2 separate regions of the Homo sapiens genome follow, and region 1 is linked to region 2. The links come from fine-mapping of genetic effects on gene expression. Tissue or cell type: whole blood. Region 2 holds a variant in brackets; the other region holds the start of a gene. All regions are shown on one strand. Distances are from middle to middle. Region 1 holds the start of LINC01011 (long intergenic non-protein coding RNA 1011). Region 2 has its middle 33 kb from the start of SERPINB9.

What was found.
Region 1: it holds the start of LINC01011, and the variant in region 2 is fine-mapped to the expression of LINC01011 in whole blood (TOPMed, PIP above 0.99).

The regions. Positions count from the first base shown.
Region 1 is chr6:2,980,515-2,997,419 of GRCh38, reverse strand. It overlaps LINC01011 (long intergenic non-protein coding RNA 1011), which reads right to left and starts at 9,453. Exons shown (of 3, transcript NR_026856.1): 1 at 9,389-9,453; 2 at 7,687-7,892; 3 at 6,249-7,551. NQO2-AS1 (NQO2 antisense RNA 1) reads left to right here. Exons shown (of 2, transcript NR_186367.1): 2 at 7,409-8,084. RefSeq lists silencers at 3,323-3,507, 8,089-8,508 and enhancers at 6,274-7,081, 7,359-7,518, 7,082-7,891, 7,892-8,701, 8,702-9,511 and 1 more.
Region 2 is chr6:2,928,962-2,942,851 of GRCh38, reverse strand. No RefSeq gene overlaps it. Among named protein-coding and RNA genes, the nearest start is that of SERPINB9, 33 kb to the right of the region's middle. RefSeq lists an enhancer at 13,404-13,890. The variant C/A (reference allele first, on the strand shown) is at 6,164.

The sequences.
Region 1 (16,905 bases), 53 kb before region 2:
GGATGACAGAGCGAGACCCTGTCTCAAACAAAAACAAAAACAAATAGAAACACTGCACTCATTGGATAATAAATCCCCATTCTCCCCTCCTTCCACTCCTGGTAGCCTCTAATCTACTTTCTGTCTCCATGAATTTGTCTATTGCATGTATTTCATATAAGTGGAATCCTACAAGATGTGGCCTTTTCACTAAGCTTTTTTTCCTCAAAAACCTTGTTGCTGAGTTTCATCCATGTTGTAGTATGCATCAGAACTTCATTCCTTTTTATGGCCGAATAATAGAAAAATGTGTATACCGCCTGGCCAACGTGGGGAAACCCCATCTCTACTAAAAACACAAAAATTAGCTGGGCATGGTGGTGTGCACCTGTAGTCCCAGCTACTCGGGAGGCTGAGGCAGGAGAATCACTTGAACCCAGGAGGCAGAGGTGGCGGTGAGCTGAGATTGTGTCATTGCACTCAAGCCTGGGCAACAAGAGCAAGACTGACAGAAAGAAAAGAAAGAAGAAAGAGAGAAAGAAAAAGAAAGGAAGGAAGGAAGGAAGGAAGGAAGGAAGGAAGGAAGGAAGGAAGGAAGGAAGGAAGGAAGGGTACCAGGCATTGTTTATCCACTCATCTGTTGTTTGACTATTGTGAATAATATTGCAATGATTATTGGTGTACAAGTATCTGTTTCAGTCCCTGTGTTCAATAATTTTGGTTATACACCTTGGAGTGGAATTGTCGGTATTACAATTCTATGGTCATTCTATGTTTAGCTTTCTGAGGAACAGCCAAACTGTTTTCCACAGCGTCTACACCATTTCACATTTTCACCAACAATGTACACAGGTTCCAACTTCTCTACATTCTCACGCACATTTGTTATGTTTCTTTTTTTTCCCTCTAAATTATAGCCATCCTAGCAAGTGCGAAGTGGTATCTCATTGTGGTTTTGATTTGCATTTCCCTAAGGACTAATGACTTTGAGCATCTTTTCATGTGCTTACTGGCCATTTGTATACCTTCCTTGGAGAAATGTCTATTCAAGTCCTTTGTTGACCATTTAATTGGGTTGTTTGTCTATTTGTTGTTGAGTTGTAGGTTTTTTGTTTGTTTTTTGAGACGGAGTTTTGCTCTTGTTGCCCAGGCTGGAGTGCAATGGCGAGATCTCGGCTCACCGCAACCTCCGCCTCCTGGGTTCAAGTGATTCTTATGCCTCAGCCTCCCGAGTAGCTGGGATTACGGGAATACGCCACCACGCCTGGCTAATTTTATATTTTTAGTAGAGACAGGGTTTCTCCATGTTGGTCAGCCTGGTCTCAAACTCCCGACCTTAGGTGATCCGCCCACGTCGGCCTCCCAAAGTGCTGGGATTACAGGCGTGAGCCACCGCACCCGGCCGAGTTGTAGGTGTTCTTTACATATTCTGGATGTTATCAGACATAGGATTTACAAATATTTTCTCCCATTCTGTAGGTTGTCTTTCACTTTCTTGAAAATGTCCTTTGATATAAAAGTTTCACATTTTTTATGAACTCCAATTTACCTATTTTTTGTTGTTTCTTCCTGGGCTTTTAGTGTCTTATCTAAGAACCCAAAACACAAGATCATGAAGATTTACTCTTACGTTTTCCTCTATATGGCTTTAGTTCTTATATTTAGGTTGTGAATTATTTTTCACATATGGTGTGAAGTGGAGCCCAACTTTAGTCTTGCATGTGGAAATCCATTTCTCTCACAGCATATATTAAAGAAACTATTATTTCATCATTGAATGGACTTGGCACTCTTGTCAAAAATTCACTGGCCACAGATGTATGGATTTATTGAGGATCCCTTGTACATCTCTTGCAGCTTTTAAGATTCTCCCTTAGTCTTATACAGGCATATCTGCCTTATTCTGCTTCTCTTTATAGTACTTCCACAGATGTTGCATTTTTTTTTTTTTTACAAATTGAAGGTCTGTGGCAATCCTGTGTCAAGGAAGTCTATGTTTATGTGATCAATATTATTATCAATTATTGTATTGTGATTCCTCAGAAAGGTTACATAATCTATTGACACCTCTAGCATGGGATAGTGACACATATAACAGATACTGACACTCTGTCCATCACTGAACTGTGTGTGGATTGATCAAAGCAATCTTTGAGTGAGTCTAGTTTCCCCTCTGGTAGGACCTACTTAGACGGAGATAAAATATTTTCTCACCGCTTACATTAATCTAGATTTAGATATAGTTGTCCTCCTGTATTTGTGTGTTCCATATCTGCTGATTCAACCAACCTCCAATGGAATATATTTGAAAGAAAAAGCAATACAACAATAAAAAAATACAAATAAAAATACAGTGTAACAACTATTTATATAGCATTTACATTGTATTAGGTACTATATGTAATCTAGAGATTATTTACAGTATATGGGAGGCTGTGCAAAGGTTATGTGTCAATACTATGCCATTTTATATCAGGGATTTGAGCATCTGTGGATTTTGATATATTTGAGGGGTCCTGGTCCCAGTCCTCCATGAATACCCAGGATTGACTATATATTTTTGGATGTTAAATCACCTTGCAGAACTTGAAAAAAAAGTTATCAAGTAAACAATCTCCAGGTGAAATAGTCCATATCAGTACCGTCTTTCAAGTATTAGTTGTTTATCAGTCAGATTACTATTAAGGCTGACATAACTTTGATCAGACCAAGTTTCTGAACAGTTCATATCCCTAAACTGAACATTAGTTCCTCGTTCTCATGCAACACATAGCCCGTTTTTCTTTGCACATTGTCTGATTTTCATATGTGCTTGACACTTAATAATTTTAAGTTCCTATGGCTTTACTAGTGCGTAGGAAAGATTTTCAACTGTATCATAGGACTTGTGAAAATGGAAAGAATGGAAAATGTAAGACGAAGTGTAGACACTAAAATCTTAGACTCAACACCCTTATATCATATGGCCTTCTTCTAAGGAGTGTAGGTTCCTGTCTTAGTCTGTTTTGTGTTGCTATAAAGGAATACCTGAGGCTGAGTAATTTATAAAGATAAAAGGTTTATTTGGCTAATGACTCTGAATGGTTGGAAAGTTCAAGGTTGGGCATCTGCATCTGGTGAGGGCCTCAGGCTGCCTCTACTCATGGAGGAAGGTGAAGGAGAACTGGAGTGTGCAGAGATTACATGGCAAGAGAGTAAGCAAGAGAGAAAGGAGGGAGGTCAAGGATTGTTTCTAACCACCAGCTCTGGAAGAACTCACTCACCCCTGAGGGAGGGCATTCATCTATTCATAAGGATCTGGCCCTGCAACCTAAACACCACCCATTAAGCCCCACTCCAACATTGGTGATCACATTTCAACTTGAGGTCAGGCTTGGCGGTGCTCACCTGTAGTCCCAGCTACTCCAGAGGCTTAGGTGGGAGGATTGCTTGAGCCCAGGAGTTCAAGGCTACGGTGAGTCACAAACACACCACAGCACTCCAGCCTGGGTAACAGAGCGAGGCCCTTATCTATGAAAACAAGAAAAAAGATGAAACAAATTTCAACATGAGGTTTGGAAGGAACAAACATCTAAATCACACAGTAGTTCCTGACCTGAAGCTATTGTCACATTATTGATGTGTATAATTTAGAAATATGTCATTAATAGCCAATACTCAGATCTAGAAAACTAGTGGACAAAGCGAGTGCTTTAAAACCAAAGTGGCATTTAAAAAAAAATCAAACCTACTGGTTTTCCTACTAAGTAAGTCTTGAAATAATGCACTATAGAGATCCTGTCTTATCTATACAGCTAGAGAGAATAACAAATTTTACTTTTATCAGTTAAATAAATTTTGTCTTAATATGACTTATTATTTATATTTATCTTTTTACATTTCAAAAACACTATGTTATTCAATTGAATGACTTATAATTTTTGAGTTACCTGGTCACTGTATTATCATTGTCAGTTATTATATTTCACATGCATTACTTAGTAAAGACAAATCTTGGGGCCGGGCACGGTGGCTCACACCTATAATCCCAGCACTTTGGGAGGCCAAGGCGGGCGGATCACGAGGTCAGGAGATCGAGACCATCTTGGCTAACATGGTGAAACCCTGTCTCTACTAAAAATACAAAAAATTAGCCGGGCGTGGTTGCAGGTGCCTGTAGTCCCAGCTATTCGGGAGGCTGAGGCAGGAGAATGGCCTGAACCCGGGAGGCGGAGCTTGCAGTGAGCAGAGATCGTGCCACTGCACTCCAGCCTGGACGACAGAGCGAGACTCCGTCCCAAAAAAAAAAAAAAAAAAGAAAAATCTTTACCAAGGCCTGATTTCTTGAGCATATTGATATAATATATAGTTAAACATGTTATTGATAGACAAGATGTTTCTCAAGAATATTATGTTTGTGCAGAAATTACCACATAAAATTAAATCCTTCTTTTCGGCTGACTATTTTTTAAAAACTTAGGCTGATATTAATGAAAAAACTGAAACCCAAATGAAGCCTGGAGTTAATAGTAATGTACAACGTTGGGACCTTAGTTTCCACAAATGTATCTGTTTTACTTTAAGATCTTCAAGATGCGGAGCACCCCTACAACGATTAGGAGAGACACAGGCTAGAAATAGTTTATTACTTACAGATCCTGGGGCACATGGCATACTTGGAGGCCACCTTCATGGAAATCAGGGAGTGCAGGCAGAGAGACCAAGACAGCAACCCATGGGCCAACACCTTTATTGGGTCCAGGGTGTTATCCAAACAGGTTTCCCATGGGGAGTTTTATTCGGTGGGTTTACAGCAAGCAGGCATGAGTTCCAGGAGGTGGCACAGTGACTGAGTGGTGGGCCCTGTGGCGCATCTGCACATTCTAGGTGGGGTGTGAGGGTCAGTGTGGCCAATAGGTTCTAGCTGTGCCATAGAGAAGTGGTCAACAGGAGATAGTTGTATGAGGCAGATATCTGGATCCACCACATAACAGAACTGGGAGAAGGTGGAGAACCAGCAACTTTGTCCGGGGTGACTGAGCCTTGATTTTGGTGTGGGAAAGTCCAATGTATATTCAAAATGGATGTGGAGGCAACCCAACATAAGAATTCACAACACTACCATGGTGATATGTTACCATTAGGGGAAACTGTGTTAGGGGAATATGGTAACTACCTGTATTATCTGACTTTCCTGTGAATCTAAAGTTATTCCAAAGTAAAAAAAAAAATTGTATTAAAAAAACTATTATAAATAAAAGTTTAATGACACTAAAATCCCTGCTTTAAAATCTTATGAGCTAGCAGAGTACATTTCTAACTTATATGTTATATGTGCTGTTAACTATGAGAAGATCTCCCCCAAAATCATGTTTTTCTAATTTCTTATAAAAATACTAATACAAAACTGCTTATTGACTGCATCTCATCAGCTGTTATTCTTTTAGACTGATTGAATTATTCTAAGTTGCTTTTCCAGATTCATCTAATAAAAAGAAAGATTGGATCTGACATGAACAGTGTATAAATTAGTACAAGAAAGTCTCTTTTCTGAATCAAATCTTGGTCCTACAGTTTAGGATTTTATTTATTTAATTTACTTTGAGACAGGGTCTCATTCTGTTGCCCAGGCTGGAGAGCAGCGGCGCTATATCTCAGCTCACTGCAACCTCCGCGTCCCGGGTTCAAGCGATTCTGGTGCCTCAGCTTCCTGAGTAGCTGGGACTACAGGTGAGCGCCATCACACCCGGCTAAATTTTTTATTGTATTTTTAGTAGAGACAGGGTTTCATCATGTTGGCCAGGCTGGTCTCCAACTCCTGGCCTCAAGTGATCCACCAGCCTCAGCCTCCCAAAGTGCTGGGATTACAGGAGTGAGCCACCATGCCCAGCCTAGTTTAGGATTAAAAAATTGTTCTATGCCTTAATGCCAAAGATAGAACATTGTAATAATTATTTTATTACAATTTATGTAATTATTTTAATTATTTTATGTCTTTAAGAAACAATTTGCCTCTGTCATATCTCACATTAAAATGGAAAAAAAAATTCCTTATGTTTGTGTTCTAACAAATTAAAAGTTGTGTATCATTGTGAATTCAAAAGAGAAGCAGGTAACACATGAACTGGGATCATGGAAACCAAACCAGAATAAAGCAAGCCCAGCACAATACTATCTTGGAGGCTGACCAGTTAGAAGGTCTTAAACATAATATATTTTAAACAAACAGTTAAAGGAAAAAGATTAACCTAGTGTTGTAACCGAGCGAGTTACAGAGAAACGCCACACTCTGAGACGAATTCAGGAGTCCTTTATTAGCCGGCAGCCGAGAGACAGCTAGCGCTCGAAATTCTCTTGGCCCCGAAGAAGGAGCTAGATTTTCTTTTATACTTTGGTTTAGACAGGGGAGAGGGGGAGTCTAGTTGAAACAATCTTACAGAAGTAAAGTAGGCAAAAAGTTAAAAGGATAAACGGTTACAGGAAAGTAAACAGTTCCAGGTGCAGAGGCTTTAAGTCTATCCTAAGGTGATGGACGCCGGGCTTTGGGCGTTATCAACCGGACACAAACGCAGGGGCTCTGGGTGCTATTAACCGGGCGAATTCCTGGGAACTGCGGATATAGCTTGCCACAGTATCTTATCAGTTAATTGCATTCTTGATGTGCTGGGAGTCAGCTTGCACAAGTTAAGTCCTTGAGGAAGGGGGTGGGTAAGGGGCTGCGAGTGAAGGAGTCACGATGGAGTCCGTCTGGCTCTCTTAGCTAAGGAAGAGTCACTTCAGGTTAAAACAAGGTAGGGTATCCCACTAGAAGCCTCACATCATTAAGCTTCAGTCAGGCAGGCATTCCTTTAAAAAGTGTTTACTGAGTACCTTCTCTATGTCAGTCACTATTTGGGGCATAAAGGACTCACTTCTCCGCAAAAACAAACTCTGATCCCCCGGTCTCCTCGAGTCACGGAGCTTGCAAGCTAGTGGGAAAAATTGGGAACTGGTGCAAAGAATGACTGCAAAATAAATTGTGGTCATCTTGAAGACATATGCGTGCATGTGTGCGTGAAGCTTTTTAAATAGAGAAGCTTTAAGTGGGGGAAATTTGCTGACATTACACGATTTCTTCTCTTAGTGCAAATGTATACAGCCTGTCTTTTTGAAGGGGTCACGGTAGATAATTATGCTCTGTTAACCTCATTTGTTGTCAGGGAAAATTAAAACTAAGGGTAGTGTCAGTAGGAATCTTGGTTCCTGCCAGTTTTGTTGTTTGTTAGCATATCTTCCTTTACAGGTAGTATGGTTTCATTTTCGTAAAAATGCTGCATAAACGTGGCTGGGTATGTTACTCATTGCAGTGCCTGCTGATTTCGCTGGACCCCACCCTGCTTTTGCTGCCCAATGCGATAGCATATGGGACAGAGCTAAATTCCTACTCAGCTGTAACTCTGCTTATTTTCAGGAAAAAGAATGCCTGTGTTTCGAAGTTCCTTCTTAGGACGAAACCAGCTGAAGCTGGCGAAATCCAAGATGGCGCCTCTGAAGAGCCTCTGGCTTTATCATCATCCTGTTCTCATGCTAAACAACATGTCGCCATGACAACGACTGGAAGAGACCAAGAAGGGACAGAAAAAAAGGGGTTTCTTGATTCCGGGAAAAATCTCCGTTCTTTCCCAAGGAAAGCACGAATATTCCCCCCCGTGCTCTTAATGCCCAGCCCCTTCATTAAAGACACCCTACCTCTGAAACTTCCCAGCTCTCACAAGCTAAGTTGATTTCAGATCTTCCAATTCCATAGCCATTGAATACAGCCTGCACTGCTTGACACACTCCCTTTCGGTTTCGTGCATTGGCCTCACCACGCAACAGGAAACAACCCTTTTTGGGATAACCGGGACTCCCGGTAACATTTCCATATATACATATCTTAATGTATGCAAGGGCGTCTGGGGGAGAAAGAAGCAGCACATTTCATTCTTTGCTTTCTATAATACTGGATTGCTTGAGTTTGTGACACATGTTAACATTTGCAACATTTTTAAACTAAATTGTATGTATTATAGAACAGTCCTCTGCGCTGAGCTTGGACTTAAAGTGGAAAGGCTTACATTTGCAGAATTAAAAAAAGCATCGAAACATTCTGTGGCAGGAAGTCCTGCGAGCCTCCTCGCCCCAGCCCGGTTTCCCGCGGGCCCCAGCCTCATCCCCCAAGGCCCCACCCTGAGAGCCCCCAGGTCCCAGCCGCGTCCTCCTGGACCCCTCCCAGGCGTGGCGAGCCGGGTCGCGGGAGCGCTCCGCCACCAGGGGACAGTGCGGCGCCGACCGTGGGCTGCTGGCTCGGCCGAGGGCACCCAGGCGCCCTCCGCTGCAGCGGGCTGGTTGCAGAGGGGCGGGCTCTCGCCAGGCAGCAGGCGCTCCGGGCGCAGCTGGGAGGAAGGAACGCCCCCGGGAGTGGGCGGCGGCCGAGGGACCCTGCAACCGTCCTCCCTGGAGGAGGCCCCCGCAGCTCCCGCAGCCCCCCTCATCCCGGACGGGCCGGGGATTGGGACTGGCCTGGGGTCTCCTACTCTCCTACTCCGCGCAGGAAGTAGCCCCTTGGCAGGACCGGCGGTGCCTGCTGCTTTCAGGAGCCCCGAGCCGCTTTTGTCTGGGTGCAGCTCAGCTCACATCCCCGATGCAAGTCTTTCCCGGCTCGTCTCCCCTTCTTCCCGGAGTCCATGCCTTGCTGTCGGTGACTCATCCCACACTGTGCCCTGCGACTCACCCTGTCGCTTTCTCTGTTCATCCGGGAGCGCGGCGCCATCTCCCTCCAGCCCCGCCTCCCCTACAGTGCTCCGTGCTGAGGTCGCACGTTCTCTCCTCCCTCCAGCTCCCTGGCTCTTGGCCCTTCCCAGGCCACCAGGCGACAGCAGCCTCCGCCTTCATTTCCCTTGGTCATTTCAGGCGCATGCTTGGAGGATTTCAGGATCTGACTCAGCTTCCCCGCCATGCATCCCTCCACCAGCATCCAGTCACACCTCTGCAGCCTTCAGTGTCCTGGAAAGGACTGACCAATCTGACCCATTAGAACCTACCCAGACCAATTTGAAGGCCACTGCCCCTCAACCGTGGCCACCCACTCCTGCCCCACCTGGAGCCCCAAACTGCTCAGTTCCTTCTCTAAAACTCTGCCCTCTTTTGTTTGTTGTGAATAACTGTCTTCCCTGGTTCTTTCCACACCTCTCTGGCCTCTCCTTGTCTTTTTCTGGTTCTTTTTTTCTCTATTCTCCCTTATGCACTGGCCTTGCTGGAGGTCCCTGCTCTCCCTGCAAAACCTCACCACACCCTTGACTTCAGCTATATCCATTTCACCTCACGTTGACATCTGGTGCCTAGACCTCTCTCCCGAGCCTTCCACACCATGCCAAAAATGAAATTCATTTTCTCCTCTAAATTTGCTCACCTTCTTGTTTTCCCAATCTTATTTATTGTCACAGCCATTCCCCTGCTGGTCCAAGTCAGTAGTCTGAGAGTCATGCTAGACTCCTCCTTCCTTATCTACCCATCCACCAATCCCCAAGCCCTGTCTATCCTCCTTTTTTTTTTTTTTTTTTTCCAGTCAGAGTCTTGCTGTGTTGCCCAGGCTAGAGTGCAATGGCACGATCTCGGCTCACTGCAATCTTTGCCTCCCGGGTTCAAGTGATTCTCCTGCCTCAGCCTCCTGAGTAGCTGGGATTACAGGCGCATGTCACCACGCCCAGCTAATTTTTGTATTTTTAGCAGAGATGAGGTTTTGCCATGTTGGCCAGGCTGGTCTTGAACTGCTGACCTCGTGATCCGCCTGCCTCTGCCTCCCAAAGTGCTGGGATTACTGGCATGAGCCACTGTGCCTGGTCATCTATCCTCCTTTTTAAATAGCTCTGCCATGTGTGCCTGTCTCCCCTGACAGCTCACCCTCATCCTATTTGTCCACATTGCTGCAGAGTAGTCTCTTCCATACACCAGGAGTTCCCAACCCCCGGGCCACAGACCTGACTGGTCTGTAGCCTGTTAGGAACCAGGACACACAGCAAGAGGTGAGCCACCAGTGGGTGAGCTAGTGAAGCTTTATCTGTATGTGCAGCTGCTCCCCATTGCTTGCATTACCACCAGAGCTCTGCCTCCTATCAGATCAGGCAGCATTAGATTCTTATAGGAGCACAAACCCTACTGTGAACTGCACACATAAGGGATCTAGGATGTGCGCTCCTTATGAGAATCTAATGCCTGATAATCTGCCGTTGTCTTCATCACCCCCACATGGGGCCAGATAGTTGCAGGAAAACAAGCTCAGGGCTCCCACTGAAAATAAAGTGCACAAGAAGTGTCATGTGCTTGAATCATCCCGAAACCATCCTCTGCTGTCCAAGGAAAAATAGTTTTCCACAAAACCCCTCCCTGGTGCCAAAAAGGTTGGGATGGTTGCCATACATAACTCTGATGATGAGACCACGAAGCTCAGAATCCTCCAGAGGCTCTCCACTGCCTGTAAGATGAAATAAAATTTATGGGTGTGACTTATCCATAAGGGCCCAGTCTAAACTGCCTCATATTTAATTATATAGTAAGCTATTTGTTTCCTCAAACGTATATATTTTGGCCCATTTCCCAGTCTCCTAGGTTGGAATATGCTCTGTGTGTCACCTGGCCAGCTCATGCTCTTTCTCATTCTCAGCTCAAGTGTTAGGGACTCTATGACACCTTTCTTGATTCTCCCAGTCAGACATATTGTTGCTACTTTTTCTTAACACTTATCCTTTTATCCTTGGCACCACTAAAGCACATATCACATCAGATTTCACTTGTTTGCACATCTGTCTGGCATCTTGAGCCCAGGGACCGTGTCGCCTGTCTTCATGTCCCCAGGCCCTAGTGTAGCTCCCAGCCTATAGTGAGTGCAGAATAAAAGTTTGTAGAATGAGGCCAGGCGCGGTGGCTCATGCCGGTAATCCCAGCACTTTGTGAGGCCAAGGTGGGCAGATCACGAGGTCAGGAGTTTGAGACCAGCCTGACCAACATGGTGAAACCTCGTCTCTACTAAAAATACAAAAAATAGCCGGGTGTGGTGGCACGCGCCTGTAATCCCAGCTACTCAGGAGGCTGAGGCAGGAGAATCGCTCAAACCTAGGAGGTGGAAGTTGCAGTAAGCTGAGATCGCGCCACTGCACTCCAGCCTGTGCAACAGAGTGAGACTCTGTCTCAAAAAAAAAAAAAAAAGTTTGTAGAATGAATGAAACAATTAGTTACACCACAGTTAGTGAGTCATCGATACTTCATCAAGGCTGGGTATTTCGTATAATAAAGTTATTAAAGCTGATAAGCAAAGATCAAGTTACCCAAAGAACAGCACTGCCGGTGATCTAAAGGTCTTTGCCCTCAGGTTGCTTAGGTAACGGAAAGGATAAGAACTCCCCACTGTTCTGGGGCGGATCTTACATTGCTTTTGGAAGAGGCAATAGACTTGGGAAAGAAAGGAGTGTGTGTATTGAGGTATTGAGGGAATGGTTAGGTGGGAGGAGTCAGAGAGGAAGGCTGCAGTAGCCCCTCAGTCGACCCTGGCTGCTTTGTCCTTGGGGCTCAGTGAACAGATTATCTGTTTTCATGGTAAGGGGTTGGGATTCTCTACTTCAGGTGGGCACCCAGAAAGTGAATTGCTCGCCTTTGTTTAAAAATAATGAAAATGGGCCGGGCGCGGTGGCTCATGCCTGTAATCCCAGCACTTTGGGAGGCTGAGGCAGGTGGATCACCTGAGATCAGGAGTTTGATACCAGCCTGGCCAACATGGTGAGACCCCGTCTCTATTAAAAATACAAAAATTAGCCAGGCGTGGTGATGGGTGCCTGTAATCGCAGCTACTCAGGAGGCTGACACAGGAGAATCACTTGAACCCAGGAGGCGGAGGTTGCAGTGAGCTAAGATCTTGCCACTGCACTCCAGCCTGGGCTACAGAGCAAGACTCTGTCTCAAAAACAAACAAACAAAAAACCCAAAAATAATGAAAATGTCTGCCCACCCTTCACTAAGTAAACATAATGAAAATGCACATCTTGTGCCCTCTTTTGCTTTTATTCTATAATACCCAAGCCTACGTTTTGGAACTAAACCCCACGCCCTTTGTGTGAAAGCCATGCGGATCTTCAAAGGGATCTCTTTAGGGGGAACATTAAGTTTGCCCAAGGAGGCACCCTTCTGGGTCTCCAAGGCCACCTGGCTGCAATGCAGTCCAATTCCAGCCTCTGTCTCCCAGAGCACCCCCTGTGCCAGGGCGGCAGGATCCCAGGGGTGTGTCTACCATGGCACCAGACACACACTGGCTGAATGTAGCCTCGTCATCGCTGAGCCCTGTTCACAACCATTTTTGTTTTCGTGCTTTTTCAGTTTTAGGAGCTTTGTTGTATCCCTGGTCAAAACTACTCTGGTGAAGCTCACTAGGTGTCTCTAACTCGGCACCTGAGGAGCAGTTTTCCTGAGCTCCTCATGCAAATGGACGCCACTCCCTTCGGCAAAGTCCTGGGAGCTCAAGGGAGGCTGCCCAGTCAGCTGCGGCCCATCCCAACGCATTGGGGACCTGCCCACCTGGCTCTTAATTTGCATTTTGAAATGTCACCCAAGTGATTCCAGACCAGATAAGAAGATGAGCTTCTCTTGTTATGGAAAAAGGAAGAGAGACAGAGAGAGAAACCTCTGTTTTGTTATTTAGCTATTCCTCAAATTCTTATGACCAGTGATGATATTTTTTAAAAAATCTCCAGAACAACACAATTATTTAAATTTAACTCAGATTTTATTTTAATTTATTAATTTATTTATTTTTGAGATGGAGTCTCGCTGTGACACCCAGGCTGGAATGCAATGGCGCAATCTTGGCTCACTGCAACCTCAGCTTCCCGGGTTAAAGCGATTCTCCTGCCTCAGCCTCCCAACTAGCTGGGATTACAGGTGCCTGCCACCACGCCTGGCTAATTAATTAATTATTATTATTTATTGAAACGGAGTCTCACTCTGTCACCTGGGCTGGAGTGCAGTGGTGTGATCTTGGCTCACTACAACCTCTACCTCCCAGGTTCAAACAATTCTCCTGCCTCAGCCTCCTGAGTAGCTGGGATTACAGGCACACACCACCATGCCTGGCTAACTTTTTTTTGTATTTTTAGTGGAGACAGGGTTTCATCATGTTGACCAGGCTGGTCTCAAACTCCTGACTGCAAGTGATCCGCCTGCCTCGGCCTCCAAAAATGCTGGGATTACAGGCATGAGCCACCGCACCTGGCCTTAACTCAGATTTTAAATATGAGAGTATCAACTTGTAGGGGTGGAAGAGGTGTGATGCCTCTCCTTACACATTGTATGGGTCACAGCCAAGGCTCCTATCTCAAAAGACACAGTCCCACCTCCAGCTCCAGTTCGTCTTCTCATTCATCCCAGATAAGTTTCTTGAAAGAGTATTCTAAGACAACTCTCTCCATGTGTCTCCAGGCCTGGATCTGCCTCAGTTTTTGCTCCTCCCATCTATCGTCCCTTGGTAACTAACGACTTGGGAATGAGAAATGCCCTTTTCAATTCTGACTCTCCTCTTCCTCTCAGCACCAGCAGCGGATGCTGACCTGGTTCTCTGTTTCTTCTGTCTTCTCCTTCTCTGTCCTCTTTGCCATGTGCTCCTTTTCCAGCTGTCTTTTAAAATGTTTGTTGCTGGATCAAGGAGTTTCTCCCCCAGCTTCATTTAGCATCGATAGCTCTTACCTTTGTCGTAATTTCTACCTGTCCTCTGGACATCTTCACCTAAATGTTCACCAGCACTCTAAGCCCCTTTTGACTCAAACTGATTATCTGACCCCTAAATCTGATCCTCCTCCCCCTATATACTCTTTCATGTACCCAGTTCTCTGAGTTAGAATAAATACAAACCATCTGGAACTGTAACTCTGCCCTTCTCTCTCAAAATCCACTTGTTCAGTATAGTCTATGATTTCTGCCCCCTAATTAGCTCTCTGCCTCACAGACATCACCATTGCCAGTGCCTGGCTAAGGCCCAAATTACCTGTGTTCTGGGCTCCTGAGGCCAATTTCTAAACAGCTCCCTGCTGTCACTGTCTTCTGCACCCTGCCCATCCTAAGGCCTGATGCTGGAGTTGGGAAGGAAGAAAAGAAGGAAGGTGTGGTGTGGTGGCACATGCCAGTAGTCCCTGCTCTGGAGGCTAAGGCAGGAGGATTGCTTGAGCCCAGGAGGTAGAGGCTGCCGCAAGTTATAATCACACCACTGCACTCCAGCCTGGACTACAGAGTGAGACGGGGGTTGGGGCGGGGGAGGGAGGAGGAAAAGAAGAAAGGATGGAAAAAAGGGGGCAAGAAAGGGAAAAAAGAGAAAGCAATCCTCTCCTCTCATTAAAATCCTGTGCTGGTTCCCCAATGTCTGAGGGATAAAACCCAAATTTCCTAGAATGGCACAAGGACTCTTTCCCAGCCCATCCCTGACACACCATCCAGCCCTACCCTACCTCCCTGGGGGCCTCTCCCCAGCCCACACCCTTCTCTCCTCCCTTAAAGCACACTCACCCTTTGCCCCTGTGGGCTGTCACACTGCACCTTTCTGTTGCCGGTGGTAATAAATAAATAAATAAATGATTTGATGATCCATGATACTTATTAAAGCATAGTAAAGAAGTCTTTATTCAGGACCAACTCAATAGGGTTAGAAACTGCTGTAACAGAGTCTTGTAGTGCAGGAGAGAGATTGGGCTCAACCAGAAATACAGCCTGAGGAAGTGGGGATTTATAGCCAAGGAGCAGGGTGGGGTCAGTGGATGGAAAATGACTAAGAGGAGACATCAGGGGTCAGAGGGATTCTGGCTAAACCGACCTCACAGAATTCTTGCGGAAGGCAGGTCAGGGTGATCAGACAGCCCCTGGGAGGCGGTGGAGGATGAGGTGCCTGATCAGATATCAAGGGTGATTGCACAGTGAAACTGGGGAGTTCTTTGCTAAAACTAGATTTTACATGGAAGTGCACAGGTAGACCTAATAGAAGTTTCACAAACCTGACTAATGGGCCAGGCGCAGTGGCTCACAACACCAGCACTCTGGGAGGCCGAGGTGGGTGGATCATCTGAAGTCAGGAGTTCCAGACCAGTCTGGCCAACATGGTGAAACCCCATTTCTAGCAAAAATACAAAAATTAGCCAGGCATGGTGGTGCATGCCTGTAATCCCAGCTACTCGGGAAGCTGAGGCAGGAGAATTGCTTGAACCTGGGAGGCAGAGATTGCAGTGAGCCAAGATCACAACCTTGTACTCCAGCCTGAGTGACAGAGTGAGACTCCATCTCAGAAGGAAAGAAAGAGAGAGACAGAGAGAGAGAGAAAGAAAAAGAAAGAAAGAAAGAAAGAAAGAAAGAAAGAAAGAAAGAAAGAAAGAAAGAAAGAAAAAGAAAGAAAGAAAGAAGAAAGAAAAAGAAAGAAAGAAAGAAAGAAAGAAAAGAAAGAAACCTGACTAATGTTTGGCCAAGCTAGGAATCTTTGTCACTTGTTTGTTCTTTCTCAGCTCTGGAAAATTACTCTTCCTACGAGACTGAGCTCAGCTGAGGCCCCAGGGAACACATCCTGAGGCTCACAGAGCCGTTCTTCCTGGCTTCTGTTCTCATGGGTGCGTGCATGCCCTGTTAGAGCAGGCACATGCCATTCTGTGGGCACAGTGCCTTTCCCAGCCATCTGAGCGCCTGAAAAAGGAAGGACCATGCTTCCTGCAATTCTATTTCTCAACTCTCTGTGATCTGATACAATGCTTGTGCAACAAAGATTAGTGCACGAAGTTATGGGGAACTAGTCACTAGTTTGTCTCATAGGGTTTTCCAGCTCCGTTACTTAGTGAGGGAGGGACTTCAAGTATATGCATTTGCCGTGGGGAGGGTTTACAAATTCCAGGTGTAGGAGAGTGTGGCCTGGTTACATTTCTGGGTCTTTCACCCACCTCAATGAACTACTTGAGTTGTATGAGTGGGAGAGGCAAGTCCATGCTGGACTTGCCTCAAAATTCCAGGGAGCAGGGAGCAAAGCCAATATTAGGCCTAGATTGAAGGACCATGGCTTTACCTCAATTCGAGGTCTACTCTCATATGTAAGAGGAGAAAGGCTCTAGCACTTAGTCCCTGCAAATCTGGAAGGAAAGCTGGGGAGAGACCACCCAGAAAAGTAAGTTCCAGTGTCTCTCAACCCTCCACTATGATATTTCAGAAAATAAGGCAGGTTGTTTGCTCTAGTCCCAGAAAATTCTGGAAGGAAGCTAGGCTCTTTGCAATAAATGCAGGAGCAGGGAGCATGGTGGCTGCTCTCATAAGCTAGGGATGGTGCAGGGAGTGGAGCTTAGGGTCTTCCCCAGCCCGTCCTTGTAGAGGAGACACAGAGAAGCCTGGGGACTGCTTTGGGGTTGGATGCTCATGGCTGGTGAGAAGCAGAGCAGCCTGTCAGTAGCCCCTAAAGTGTTGTTCCAGAAGCTTTCCCGGGGCAGAAAAAATTGGGAAGTCAGTCTTCAAAACACTTTTCTCTTAGGAAAGTGGGTCACCACCTCTCAGAGGAAGAGAGTGCATCTTTTATTTGCCTATTGCCTGTGGTCTCATCCGATCTCTGTTCCTTGTGTCTTGCACCACTTTGAACAGCATCTTATTTTAAACTCTCCTCCTTGACTTCCTTACACTGGCAGGAAAGGTTACATGCATTTTGTCTGTATTCATGGCCTCGTAACAGGTTCTCTGCTGCCTGCCTGCTAGGTGTCCTTTAGAAGTGATCCATGACCCAATCAGGTTTACCAAGCGAGTCACTGGGAGTGGCTGCTACTATTTTTTTTTTTTAAATAGGCCATCAGATATGAGAGCTAGAAAGTGTTACCAGAAAGGGGTCCCAATCCAGACCCCAAGAGAGGGTTCTTGGAACTCTCACAAGAAAGAATTTGG
Region 2 (13,890 bases):
TTATTGAAGGTTTCATTTTCCAGTGTTTCAGTTACCCATGGTCCAAAAATAGGTGAGTACAGCACTGTGGGTGTGAGAGAGAGAGAGGGAGAGAGAGAGATCATATTTACATAACTTTTTTTGAGACGGAGTTTCGCTCTTGTCCCCCAGGCTGCAGTGCAGCGTGATCTTGGCTCACTGCAACTTCCACCTCCCTGGTTCAAGAGATTCTCCTGCCTCAGCCTCCTGAGTAGTTAGGATTACAGGGGTGCACCACCACGCCCGGCTAATTTTTGTATTTTTAGTAGAGATGGGGTTTTACCATGTTGACCAGGCTGGTCTCAAACTCCTGACCTCAAGTGATCTGCCGGCCTCAGCCTCCCAAAGTGCTAGGATTACAGGCGTGAGCCACCGCGCCTGGCCTATATTTACGTAACTTTTATTACAGTATGTTATTGTAAACCAAAAATAAAATACTTTTTTTTTTTTTTTTTGAGATGGAGCTTAACTCTTATTGCCCAGGCTGCAGTGCAACGGCGCGATCTCGGCTCACCGCAATCTCCGCCTCCTGGGTTCAAGCGATTCTCCTGCCTCAGCCTTCCGAGTAGCTGGGATTACAGGCATGCGCCACCACGCCCAGATAATTTTGTATTTTTAGTAGAGACAGGGTTTCTCTGTGTTGGTCAGGCTGGTCTCGAACTCCCGACCTCAGGTGATCCGCCCGCCTCAGCGTCCCAAAGCGCTGGGATTATAGGCATGAACCACCAAGCCTGGCCCAAAAATAAAATTCTAAGCCCCCCAACCAAATGGACCCCTCCTCTCAGCCAAAGGCATTCGAAAGTAAACCTGAAACACTAGTTCAGGCCACGATGTGAAATAGGGAGGAGGGGCTCAGACATGCCTCATTCTACCTTCCTCCCGTTGGAATTCAGGCACAGCTGACCAGCATTACATTAAAACAGACCTTAACGCTGACAAAACAGACTCTATCTAGCAATTAGCTACCAACATGACAGACAACGGGCCCTGAAAGAAATTGAAGTATTTTACCCCAAAACATATTTCTTTGACATATTTTGAAATGGCCCTGCAAAGCTGCCTCTTGTGGGGAAAATCTACATTTTTGTAGATAATCTCCTTCCCTTTCCGGGTCTTTCTCCTGATCCAGGAGAGTCTGAAAAGAGACATTTACAATAGATGCTCTCTGAAGCCTGCTCGCTTCATCTGCAGAATAAGACCCTTGGTCTCCACAACACCTTATCTTAACCCACACACTCCCTTCTATTGATTTCAGGTCTTTAGATGAACTTTCAACCAGAAAATCTTGGAATCCACCTGCGACCCAGAAGCTCCCCCCTGACCACCACCACCTTGGGCACGTGTTCTCAGGATCTCCAGGGGCTGTGTCAGAGGCCACGGTCACTCACATTTGGCTCAGAACAAATCTCTTCAAATACTTTACAGAGTTTGACAGTATTTCAATTTTATTGCATATATTATATTGCATATGAGTTTAACTCATATTTTGAGTTTTTAATCTCTTACTGTACCTAATTTATAAACTTTATTATATGTATAGAAAAAAACAGTATATATAGGATTCAGTACTATCCATAGTTTCAGGCATCCACTGGAGATCTCTGAACATATCCCTTGCAGGTAAGGGGGGAAGCTGCTGTGTACTTCTATATGTGTCGCATGTGAAGCGTGGCCAAAATGGGAAATCTGAAAATGAAGGGGGAAAATGAACATAATTAGGGCTTTGTTTACTTTCAGAAATGGGGTGTTATGTTGCCCAGGCTGGCCTCAAATTCCTGGACTCCAGCAATCTACCCCACCTCAGCCTCCCACGCAGCTGGGATTACTGGCATGTACCCCCACACCCAACATGGGTGGCTTATATCTTTTTAAGTTTACTTATTGTAAGTCATGTTGGCTACAATTAAAAATATATATTATATACTTGAAAATGAGTAAGATTCAAAATGTTCTTGTAAACTGTGTGTCTTCCCCTATCTGAAGGAATTTGGGAGGAGCAACCTTGCAAGAACCTTGGTCTTTTTACACCCAGAAATTGGTTTTTGGTTTCACTGACTTCAAGAATAAAACCGCAAACCCTCAGTGAATACTATAGCTCTTAAGGCGGCGCGCCTGGAGTTGTTCGTTCACTCTCACTGGGCTCGTCGTCTCACCCACTATAGAAATGAAATTGCAACTTTCGCAGTGAGTGTTCCGTTCCTCCTAATGGGCTCGTCGTCTCACCCACTTCAGAAATGAAGTTGCAACTTTCACAGAGTCGTCTCACCTACTTCAGAAATGAAGTTGCAACTTTCACAGATGAGTGTTTCGTTCCTCCTGCCGGGCTCGTCATCTCACCCACTTCAGAAATAAAGTGACAATTTTCGCAGTGAGCGCTACAGCTCATAAAGGCAACGCAGACGCCAAATGCAAACGAACAAACCTTATCACAGCACAGAAAACCCCAACGGGTTACCACTACAAGCTCCGGCAGCCTGCTTTTATTCTTTTATCTGGCCCCACCCACATCCTGCTGATTGGTAGAACCAAGTGGTCTGTTTTGACAGGGCGCTGATTGGTGCGTTTACAATCCCTGAGCTAGACATAAAGGTTCTCCAAGGCCCCACCAGAGTAGCTAGATATAGAGTGTCAATTGGTGCATTCACTAAACCTTGAGCTAGATGCAGGATGCTGATTGGTGTGTTTACAAACCTTGAGCTAGATACAGAGTGCCGATTGGTGTATTTACAATCGCTGGGCCAGACACAAATGTTCTCCATGGTCCCCACCAGACTCAGGAGCCCAGCTGGCTTCACCCAGTGGATCCTGTACTGGGGCTGCAGGTGGAGCTGCCTGCCACTCCCACGCCATGCGCCCACACTCTTCAGCCCTTGGGTGGTCGATGGGACTGGGAGCCATGGAGTAGGGGGTGGTGTTCATCAGGGAGGCTCGGGCATGGCGGGCTGCAGGTCCCAAGTCCTGCCCCGCGGGAAGGCAGCTAAGGCCCAGTGAGAAATAGGGCGCAGCGCTGGTGGGCTGGCACTATGGGGGAACCCAGTACACCCTCTGCAGCCACTGGCCCGGGTGCTAAACCCCTCATTGCCCGAGGCCGGCATGGCCGGCCGGCTGCTCCGAGTGCGGGGCCCGCCAAGCCCACGCCCACCCGGAACTCCAGCTGGCCCGCAAGCGCCGCGCACAGCCCCAGTTCCCGCTGGCGCCTCTCTCTGCACACCTCCCTGCAAGCTGAGGAAGCCGGCTCCGGCCTTGCGTGGCCAGCCCAGAAACGGACTCCAACAGTGCAGCGGCGGGCTGAAGGGCTCCTCAAGTGCCGCCAAAGTGGGAGCCCAGGCAGAGGAGGCACCCAGAGCGACCGAGGGCTGTGAGGACTGCCAGCATGCTGTCACTTCTCACTTTGTACTTTTAAAAGGAAAGAATTCAAATGAGAGACAGGCAAGGGAACATTTATTTTAAGCAATGTGAAAGTTCATTGGAGAAAGTAGGCTTGGAAGAGGGTCAAGCAGGAGACTTCAAAAATCAAGTGCTGCTTCCGCTTTGATTTTTTTTTTTTTTTGGACGGAGTCTCGCTCTATTGCCCAGGCTGGAGTGCAGTGGTACAATCTCAGCTGACTGCAACCTTTGTCTCCAGGGTTCAAGCGATTCTCCTGCCTCAGCCTCCCGAGTAGCTGGGACTACAGGTGCTTGCCACCACGCCTGGCTGATTTTTTGTATTTTTAGTAGAGACAGGGTTTCACCATGTAAACCAGGATGGTCTTGATCTCCTGACTTCATGATCCACCTGCCTCAGCCTCCCAAAGTGCTGGAACTACAGGCGTGAGCCACCACCCCAGGCCTGCTTACAGTTTTTATACCCCTTACTCTTTTCCAGGCTGTCTCCACTCTTTGTTCTTCACCTCCCGGGCTGGCCCTCAAGTATTGCATGCCCAGTAGCCCTCCCAGTAGGCGCTGGATGGTTACTGAAGTTGTGCGCATGCCCATTAGATGCAATTCTCCCTTACTGGTCGAGCGCCCCTAGAGGAAAGTCATACACCGGGTAAATTTCACACCTTTCTATTACTGCACATGCTCAAAACCTTGTCTGGGACTGCCTTGCTAACTCCAGGTGTCTTCTGTCTGTTGCAAGACTCCTGTTATTCCCAGCGCCAGCCATGGCCACTTATTACCCTAGAGGGATAGTTTTATGCCCTTCAATCCCGGTCCCAATGAGAACCAGACAGCTCTGGGGTCCCTTCCTTGTCTTGCTCATTATTTCAGAGGGACAGATTTATAATTGTGACTGTGGCTTGACAAATGTCCAACATTCTTGGGGGCCCGTGCATGCCCTGCTCACGTCTAACCGCCTACTCTGACATTCTCATCACAAAAAAAATAGATGAGGTAATGCGTATGGGAATTAGCTTGTTTTAGCCATTCCACTGATATGGAAGGGTGTGCTCTCTTTAAATAACATGGCGGGGGGGGGAAGGGCGTGGTCCCTGGCTAGGGCTCCAACCCTGGGCCTGTGCCCACGGACCTAGTTGAGGACAGGCATTTTTGTTTTCCTGCCCCAATGTTGCACTTCTCAAGACCACCCTGGCCTGCCACGCCCCTACCCTGTGCCTGTAAAACCCTGAGACGCTAGCAGGCAGACACACAGGTGGCTGCATATCGAGAGGAGTACATCAGTGGAGGAACACACGAGCGGCTGGAAGTTGAGAGGAATGGGATGCACCAGCAGGCACCGGCATGCAGGCAGGCCATCCACCGGCAGAACAACGCAGTTTGACGGGGGCAGTTGAAGGAGAGCCCAGGTTGCCAGACTTACCTTGCACTCATTCTCCAAGCCCACATGTGATCCGATTCTTCTGGTACACCAAGGCAGGAACCCCAGGATACAGAAAGCCCTCTGTCCTTGCGATAAGGTAGGGGTCTGATTGAACTGGTTAACACAAGCCACCTATGGATAGCTAAACTAAAAAAGCACTCTAACACATGCCCAGTGGAGCTTCAGGAGTTGTAAACATTCAGCCCTAGACACTGCAAAAGGGTTGGAGCCCCACAGCCTACCTGTCTGTATTCTCTCCTAAAAGTTGGAGCAGCAGGGCACTAAAGTGAGCCATCAGCCCCATCACACATCCCGAGAGGAACAAGGGAACTTGCCCAGTTTCACTACCATGTAAGCATGTATCAAAACATAACATTGCAAAAGTCTACACAACTATTACTTGTCCATTTTTTAAAAATTCACTGCAAGTGATTTTTATTAGAGGACCTAAGACTGTCAAATCGTTCTTTAAAAATGTTTGGAAAAGATCAAATTGAATTTTTAAAATTCACAATTTAAACTTTAAATATACGTTATTCTCAAAGTACAGTTATTTGCTATGCAGTGAATTGTGCCCAGCCCCCTCCACAAATTCATACGTTGAAACCTTAACACGTAATTCATGATTTTAAACGAGAAATTTTTACAGTTAAGGTTGCTAAAAACAACCATCACCAAAAACACTGTGCTGGTGGGTTCATTGGTCTTACTGACTTCGGGAATGAAGCCACAGACCCGTGTGGTGTTACAAGTTCTTTAAAGCGGTATGTCCTCCCTTTACTTCTTTCATGGTGGGCTTAGCGATCTCATCGGCTCAAGAGTAAAGCTCTAAAACATTCAGTGAGTGTCATAAACTACATAACGCCATACGCTCCTGATAGTTGTTTAACTCTACAAATGGGTTGGTTCTATTTTCATACCTTCAAAAACAAAACCACAGAGCTTTACAAAGAATGTTACAGCTCATACAGGAAACAAAACCGAAAAACAGCACATTTACTGAAAAAAAGAGAAAAAAAAAAAAAAAAGCAAGAAGAATAACCATTTTCACTACATTGAAGCAGATCTCAGCAAACATACCACGGCTAACTCCGACAGCCTGCTTTTATTCCCTTATCTGGCCCCACCCACATCTTGCTGATTGGTCCATTTTACAGAAAGCTGACTGGTCTGTTTTACAGAGAGCTGATTGGTCCGTTTTGCCAGGGTGCTGATTGGTGCGTTTACAATCCCTGAGCTAGACACAAAAGTTTTCCAAGTACCCACTAGATTAGCTAGACACAGAGCACTGATTGGTGCATTTACAAATCTTGAGCTAGACACAGGGTACTGATCGGTGCATTT[C/A]CAAACCTTGAGCTAGATACAGAGTGCCGATTGGTGTATTCACAATCCCTTAGCTAGACATGAAGGTTCTCCAAGTCCCCACCAGATCAGCTAGACACAGAGTGCTGATTGGTGCATTTACAAACCTCGAGTTAGATTAAGAGTGCTGATTGGTGTATTCACAATCCCTTAGCTAGACATAAAGATTCTCCAAGTCCCCCCAGATTAACTAGAATACAGAGTGCCGATTGGTGTATTTACAATCCCTTAGCTAGACAGAAAGATTCTCCAAGTCTCCACCAGATCAGCTAGACACAGAGTGCTGATTGGTGCATTTACAAAACTTGAGCTAGATACAGAGTGCCGATTGGTGTATTCACAATCCCTTAGCTAGACATAAAGATTTTCCAAGTCCCTAATAGACTCAGCAGCCCAGCTGGCTTCACCTAGTGGATCTCGCACTGGGGCCGTGGGTGGAGCTACCTGCCCATCCCATGCCGTGCGCCCGCACTTCTCAGTCCTTGGGCGGTTGATGGGACCGGGTGCCCTGGAGCAGGGGGCGGTGCTCGTTGGGGAGGCTCAGGCTGCGCGGGAGCCCACGGCGGCGGCGGTAACGCGGGGGAGACTTAGGCATGGTGGGCTGCAGGTCCCAAGCCCTACCCCGCAAGAAGGTAGCTAAGGCCCGGTGAGAAATCGAGCACAGCGCCGGTGGGCCAGCAGTGCTGGGGAACCCAGCACACCCTCCGCAGCTGTTGGCCTGGGTGCTAAGCCCCTCACTACCTGGGGCAGGTAGGGCCGGCCGGCGGCTCCGAGTGCGGGCCCGCCAACCCCACGCCCACCCGGAACTCTAGCTGGCCCGCAAGCGCTGTGCGCAGCCCCGGTTCCCACCCGTGCCTCTCCCTCCACACCTCCCCGCAAGCCGAGGGAGCTGGCTCCGGCCTCAGCCAGCCCAGAGAAGGGCTCCTCAAGCGTAGCCAGAATGGGCGCCGAGGCCAAGGAGGCAGGGAGAGCAAGCGAGGGCTGCCAGCATGCTGTCACCTCTCACTGGCATCCTGATCTTCGACTTTGGGGCCTCCAGAACTGTGAGCAAATACATTTCTGTTGTTTGAGCTGCCTGGTCTATGGTATTTTGTATGGGAGCCTAAGCTCACTAAGACATTATTCTTGGTGCACATTCATACACTGTAATTCATTTCTTAACTGAATCTACCTCTTATCAAACATCACTGGTATTTTTCCTCAATAAGGTATTTTTCAATAGGATCTTATTAAGAAAATTTTTATAAATTGCACTTTATTGTCAATAAATGTAAAATTACTATCATGGTCAATTGACTCTTGTCTGTTGACCATAGGTCCTGTGTGACCTATGCAGCATGCAGGGCTCCACATTCACAGGGATACACACTTGGATGGATGTTTTACTGTCATCAGTTTGAAATTATTTGTAGTTTTCGAACAGAGGATCCTGCATTTTCATTTTGCAATGGGCCCTGCAAATTATGTAGCTGTTCCTGCTGTTAGACTAAGGAATTTTTATGGAGAAAACACTCTTCAGGAGCTGAGAGACGTGGTAAGCTCAGAGCAAATTCTAACAAATGAAGAACTGTCTCAATTCTAATTTTTCTCATATTAAAATGCACAAGTATTTCAGTCTGAATATTTCCACAGTTACAATCTTTTTGCCTGCATACAATGTGTTTCTTTTCCAAATACTTTTATCAGACAAAGCTTATCAAATGACTGACTTAAATAATCCTTTTGAAGTTTTCACCAAATTTTTGTGCAGCAAACTTTTTGGACATCCCAGTTTCACTGCATTCTAATATAGCCTGTAAATTTATCCAATTAAAAATAGGAAGTCCATCTAAAGTTTCTTCCTCCAAGTCAAGATACGCCAAAATTCAATTACAGAATTTGAGAAAGTTAAGTCCTATTCACTATTAAGCTGATGCTGTTTAATTAGTTTCTCCTTTGGTTTTGTAGAACTTTGAATATCTTCCTGTTTGCAAACTTTGTTTTCTATGATTTCAAGTAGCTAAAAGCCTCCAAAATTACATTTTTGGGTGCTTCACTCTGAATATTTTGACTATTTCTAACTGATTTTGAACAAAATGCACCTGAAATTTAGAGGACTCAGTTCAAAGAAGGTTAGTAACATTACAGAGCATTTCGGCTGATTTAAAATCGTTCTCCAAAAGAGCACACACAACTACATTTCAATTGCTCATGGGCAGCAAAGATGAAAAGCAGGCACTGCCATCAATACATCATCAATATCATATCATATTTGTATTCATCAGCAGCTTCATCACAAATATTCTGTAGGAACTATATAAAGAAAATTCATACATTTTGATAACTACAAGATGCTATTTTGAACAGAAGAATATTGCGGCTTGATTAATAAAATTCAAAATGTGTGTTCATCTTAACCAACTCCAAGGTTGTGACTCATCAAATTTGATTTGTATGAAAACCTTCCCTGATGCACATTTTAACTAATTTTTTTTTGAGATGGAGTCTCACTCTGTTGCCCAGGCTTAACTACATTTTTAACAGCATTTATTCACAACATATTATATATTTTCCCTGTGGGAAAGGGAACTTCTAAAAGCTTATTTTTAATTCTATCCATGAATTAGATGAAAACCTTACACTGCTTTTTAATTTGAAACATCTGATGAAACTTACTTGAACAAAATGAAAGTTTTTCTTCTGCTAATGCAGCCAATGCTTCCATGTATTGCTTTACTTTTTGAAAATGACAGAAATTAACTTCAAATAGCAGTCATTTGATCAAATGAACAGCCTGCTTTACAAACTAATATATAAATATATCCTCTGCAATGCACTTGATAGATTATTATCTTTGGACAGAATTTTCTTTCTTTCTTTCTTTCTTTTTTTTTTTTTTTTTTTGGAGACTGAGTCTCACTCTGTCGCCCAGGCTGGAGTTCAGTGACGTTTATCTTGGCTCACTGCAACCTCCGCCTCCCAGGTTCAGGCGATTCTCCTGCCTCAGCCTCCAGAGTAGCTGAGACTATAGGCACCTGCCACCACACCTGGCTAATTTTTGTATTTTTAGTAGAGACAGAGTTTCACCATATTGGCCACGCTGGTCTCAAACCCTGACCTTGTGATCCACCTGCCTCGGCCTCCCAAGGTGCTGGGATTACAGGGGTGAGCCACCGTGCCCGGCCAGAATTTTCTTAAAATAAGTTCTAACTTTTGAAGGAGGTGCTAGTATTTCCTTATAGATTAGCATCTTATAGTTTTTACATGGTCAGAGATAGCACTATGGTGCCACTGGTGAGTGGTAAGCAGCAACATTTTGTGCACACTAAACATTCCACCTCTTGTGATATGAAAATTCAGTACTTAATTTTTGAGCTCACTGTTTGCTAAAAGGATTTATTGCAAAATTAAAGTATAGCCAAACAGGCTGGGTGCGGTGGCTCTTGCCTGTAATTCCAGCACTTTGGGAGGCCGAGGTAGGTGGATCACCTGAGGTCAGGAGCTCGAGACCAGCCTGGCCAACATGGCGAAACTGTGTCTCTACTAAAAATACAAAAAATTAGCCAGTTACGCTGGCGGGCGCCTGTAATCCCAGTGCTCAGGAAGCTGAGGCAGGAGAATCGCTTGAACCTGAGAGGCGGAGGTTGTGGTGAGCCGAGATGGTGCGACTGCATTCCAGCCTGAGTGACACAGTGAGACTCTGTCTCAAAATAATAAAATTAAGTAAAAAAGTATAGTCAAACAATAAAATAAATGGCTGTAGATTTTCCTATATAATGAATAACAAAACCACTGTAGCAAGAGAGTTTGGGCTTATATCTATAATAATTTATAGCCTCTATTTCCTCTATTTAAATATGCCTCTATTTTTATATAGCCTCTATTTAAATATGCCTAAATTATAGTTTAAACTGTGTACCTAAACTATACTTTTCCACGTTTCCAACTGACTGCCAAATGATGGCTTCTCAAAAGCCACAGCACGAGCCACATTACAACCCAGTGGCTGTCAGGGGAAAGCAGTCCCAAATAATTATCTCCACAGTACTAGAGTCCAGAAGGACGTAGCTGTCCCTAGCTGCTTGTGAACAAGGATTAAGTTGTTTTATCAGTGAGTGAGTTCCTTATGTCCTGTCCTTGAAGGGGGAGACTTCTGGAAAGGATCAGACTCACAAGTTGCCTGTCAGATTTAACCAAGATTAAAGTGAGCATCCTGCACCTGCTGAGTCACTTAGCAATTGATTGTCTCTTGGCTCTAGAGCCTCCTCTCATGTAACCCTGGAGTTGCTGTCACTTCCCTAGATGGCACAATGCTACGCTTCGTCACTAGAGGGTGCCAGTGAGACACTGCCAGGAAAGCCCGGTAGAAAGACACCTGTCGTTCCCAGTTCTGGTTCTCCTGTAACCACTCAGTGCAGGGTCCAGCAGCCCACACAGACCATCTCTAGCCTCATTCTCATGTTTTCTCCATGCAACAGCCATTTCTGCAGTCGCAACAGCTGCAACCTCAGGCAGCTGTGTCCCTACCTGGCCTTTTGCTTCTGCGGACGGCTCTGGCCTGCCACACCCTCTGGCAATGGCAGACAGCTCCTGGTGGCCCACTCTGACCCATGCACTCTGCCAGCAGCAGCTGCATGTTTCTGTGACAGCTGCATCCTCTTCAAAAAGATCTGAGTTTCAGCCCGAAGTGTGTGTGGGGTGGGGGTGCGGTAAAGGTCTCCTAACACTTTAGTCTTTCCTCATCCATTCTCACTGGGCCTGTGGGTAACAGCTGCCCCTTTTTCACATGCTGCGTCTGTGCCCCTTTTCCTAACAATCCTTTATATTCTCCTCTGTTCACATAGCTGATGTGGCTTTGTCTCCTGAGTGGACCCTGACAGGTGTAAGTGTAGTGGGAGCTCACAGTACAAAGTAAAGACCTGCCAACCCCCCTCCTGTAGCTGTTACTAACAACACTTCATTGAAAATGAAAAGCCTGTGACAAATGCTGACCCAGGCAGGACACCAAGGCAACAGGTATAACTGGGACTGTCCCAGACAAGCCATGCTGTATGGTCATCCTGCTGACATGCCATATTCCAAGAGGAGATGAGGATTAATATTTCCTATTTAATTTTCCTGTCTGCATTGCATGCAGTCAGAGCACCCCAACAAGGAATGGATACATTTAGAAGACAAACAGGCCTCCCTAACTGCCACCCAACTCCTTGTCATTTAATACTTCCAGGTAATACCCCTGGAATTAATAGGGTTTCTCATTCGACAAGGCACTAAGGAGACGCTAATGGCAGCTTCCAGGTGGGATCATGTCCGAAACACATGTTTCTCTCACAAGCTCCTTCAAACAGAAAAATCCGACAAACTAATTAATATGACGCTTTTCGAATTGAGGTCCACCGGGTTCCACACATTCCTGGGTCAGCAAGCATTCTCCAACATTTCTCTTCAGTGGCCTGCTTTCATTTGCTAATGATCTTTGAAAAGAGGGTTGGTTAATTTGATATTTACATTTTTTTTTCTTTTGGAATAGCAAGAATTCCAAATGTAATGACCTGTTCTGTGAAAAGTGGCGATTAGTGGAATACCTAGCAAATATTTTTGAAAAACTGTAATGGATTGCCTTTGTAGGTAAAGATGCATCTTATTGAAAGAGGGTGGAATGATCATTTTAAAACATCTATTTGAAAGTTTTTCTTTCCCTTGTTAAATGATGTTATTGCTACAAAATGATGTTAAAACTCATATACTTATTTTTAACACTTGGAAATGTAATTTTATAACCTTTAAAAAACTCTTCCAAGGGCTGGGCATGGTGGCTCAGGCCTGTAATCCCAGCACTTTGGGAGTCTGAGGGGGGCAGATTGCCTGAGCTGAGGAGTTCGAGACCAGCCTGGGCAACACAGAGAAACCCCGTCTCTACTAAAATACAAAAAATTAGCCCAGCGTGGCAGCATGTGCCTGTAATCCCAGCTACTTGAGAGGCTGAGGCAGGAGAATTGCTTGAACCTGGGAGGCGGACGTTGCAGTGAGCTGAGATCGTGCCATTGCACTCCAGCCTGGGCAACAGAGCGAGACTCCATCTCAAAACAAAAACAAAAACAAACAAAAAACTCTTCCAAAAAGAAGAGGTTTGGTTGGTTTCAAATAATTAAAAATATAAATATATAAAATCTTAAATATTATAATTAGACATAGATTGACAATCAAACATCAAGGCTTAGTAAGCTTTTATCAATGTTTTTATTTTATTTAAATCAACCCATATAATCCCAGTGCTTTGGGAGGCTGAGGTGGGAGGATTGCTTGAGTCCAGGAGTTTGAGCCCGAAGCGAGCTATTGTTAGGGAAGCGGGAGCCCAGGAGAGCCAGAATAACGCCATTTTAAGTTCAGCTTCATCTTGAGACTAATGAGGCACATTCTTTTCCAGTCACCACCCATGGTCATAAGATATTTACACTTAAGGAAACAGCTTAAAGACACCTGCAGGGACACAGTCCTACAGCAACAGAAAGTCAAGATGTCCCAATGCCCATAGCAATATATGCTTTCAAGATAATTATTGTTTGAGACTCAGTCTTGCTCTGTCGCCCAGGCTGGGGTGCAAGTGGTGTGATCTCAGCTCACTACAACCTCTGCCTCCTGGGTTTCAGCGATTCTCCTGCCTCAGCCTCCCTAGTAGCTGAGACTACAGGCGCGCATCACCACGCCCGGCTAATTTTTGTATTTTTTAGTAGAGACGGGGTTTCACCATCTTGGCCAGGCTGGTTTTGAACTCCTGACCTTGTGATCTGCCTGCCTTGGTCTCCCAAAGTGCTGGGATTACAGGCATGAGCCACCATGCCTGGCTGCTTTCAAGATACTTGTATTTATGCTTTTACGTACATACACACTAAAACTAAAAACAAACAAAAAAACAAAACACAAGGATAGTTTTCTTTAAATCAACAGAATAATAAATTTTGTCATGCCTTCAGCCTACCCACACATAGATGTGGCTTAGCTTAGCTTTTACATAAACAAGACCTGCTACATAAGAAAAACTTAAAGATGAGTTCCTCCTCTTGCTTTCTGAGGACACTGTACTCTGTATCTGAGTAGCTTTCAATAAACAATGTCTTCTCACTGCACCCTGAGACTTGCCTTGAATTTCTTCCTGCATGAGATCCAAGAACCCTCTCCTGGGGTCTGGATCAGGACCTCTTTTTCTAGTAACACTATGATCGCACCACTGCAGTCCAGCCTGGGCCACACACTCTTGTGGGTTTGTGTGTAATTGTGTGTTGTGTATGTGTCCGGGAAATTGACTGTCTTTTTTTAATTAATTTATTTTTTTTTAATGGAGTCTTGCTCTGTCGCCCAGGCTGGAGTACAGTGGTGCGATCTCGGATCACTGCAACCTCCGCCTCCCAGGTTCAAGCAATTCTCCTGCCTCAGCCTCCCAAGCAGCTGGGACTACAGGTGCGCACCAGCTCTGGTGGTGTATTTTCAGTAGAGACAGGGTTTTGTCTTGTTGGCCAGGCTGGTCTTGAACTCCTGACCTCAAGTGATCCACTTGCCTCGGCCTCCCAAAGTGCTGGGATTACAGGCGTGAGCCACCGCGCCCAGCCAAGTGAATGTCTTTTGTGGGCACCAGACAGCGGGATTGGCTCCTCTCAAGTGAGAAATTCCAAAGGAATTTTTGTTTGCATATTGATCAAGCCCAACCAATGGAGACAGGAAGCACCAGCTGG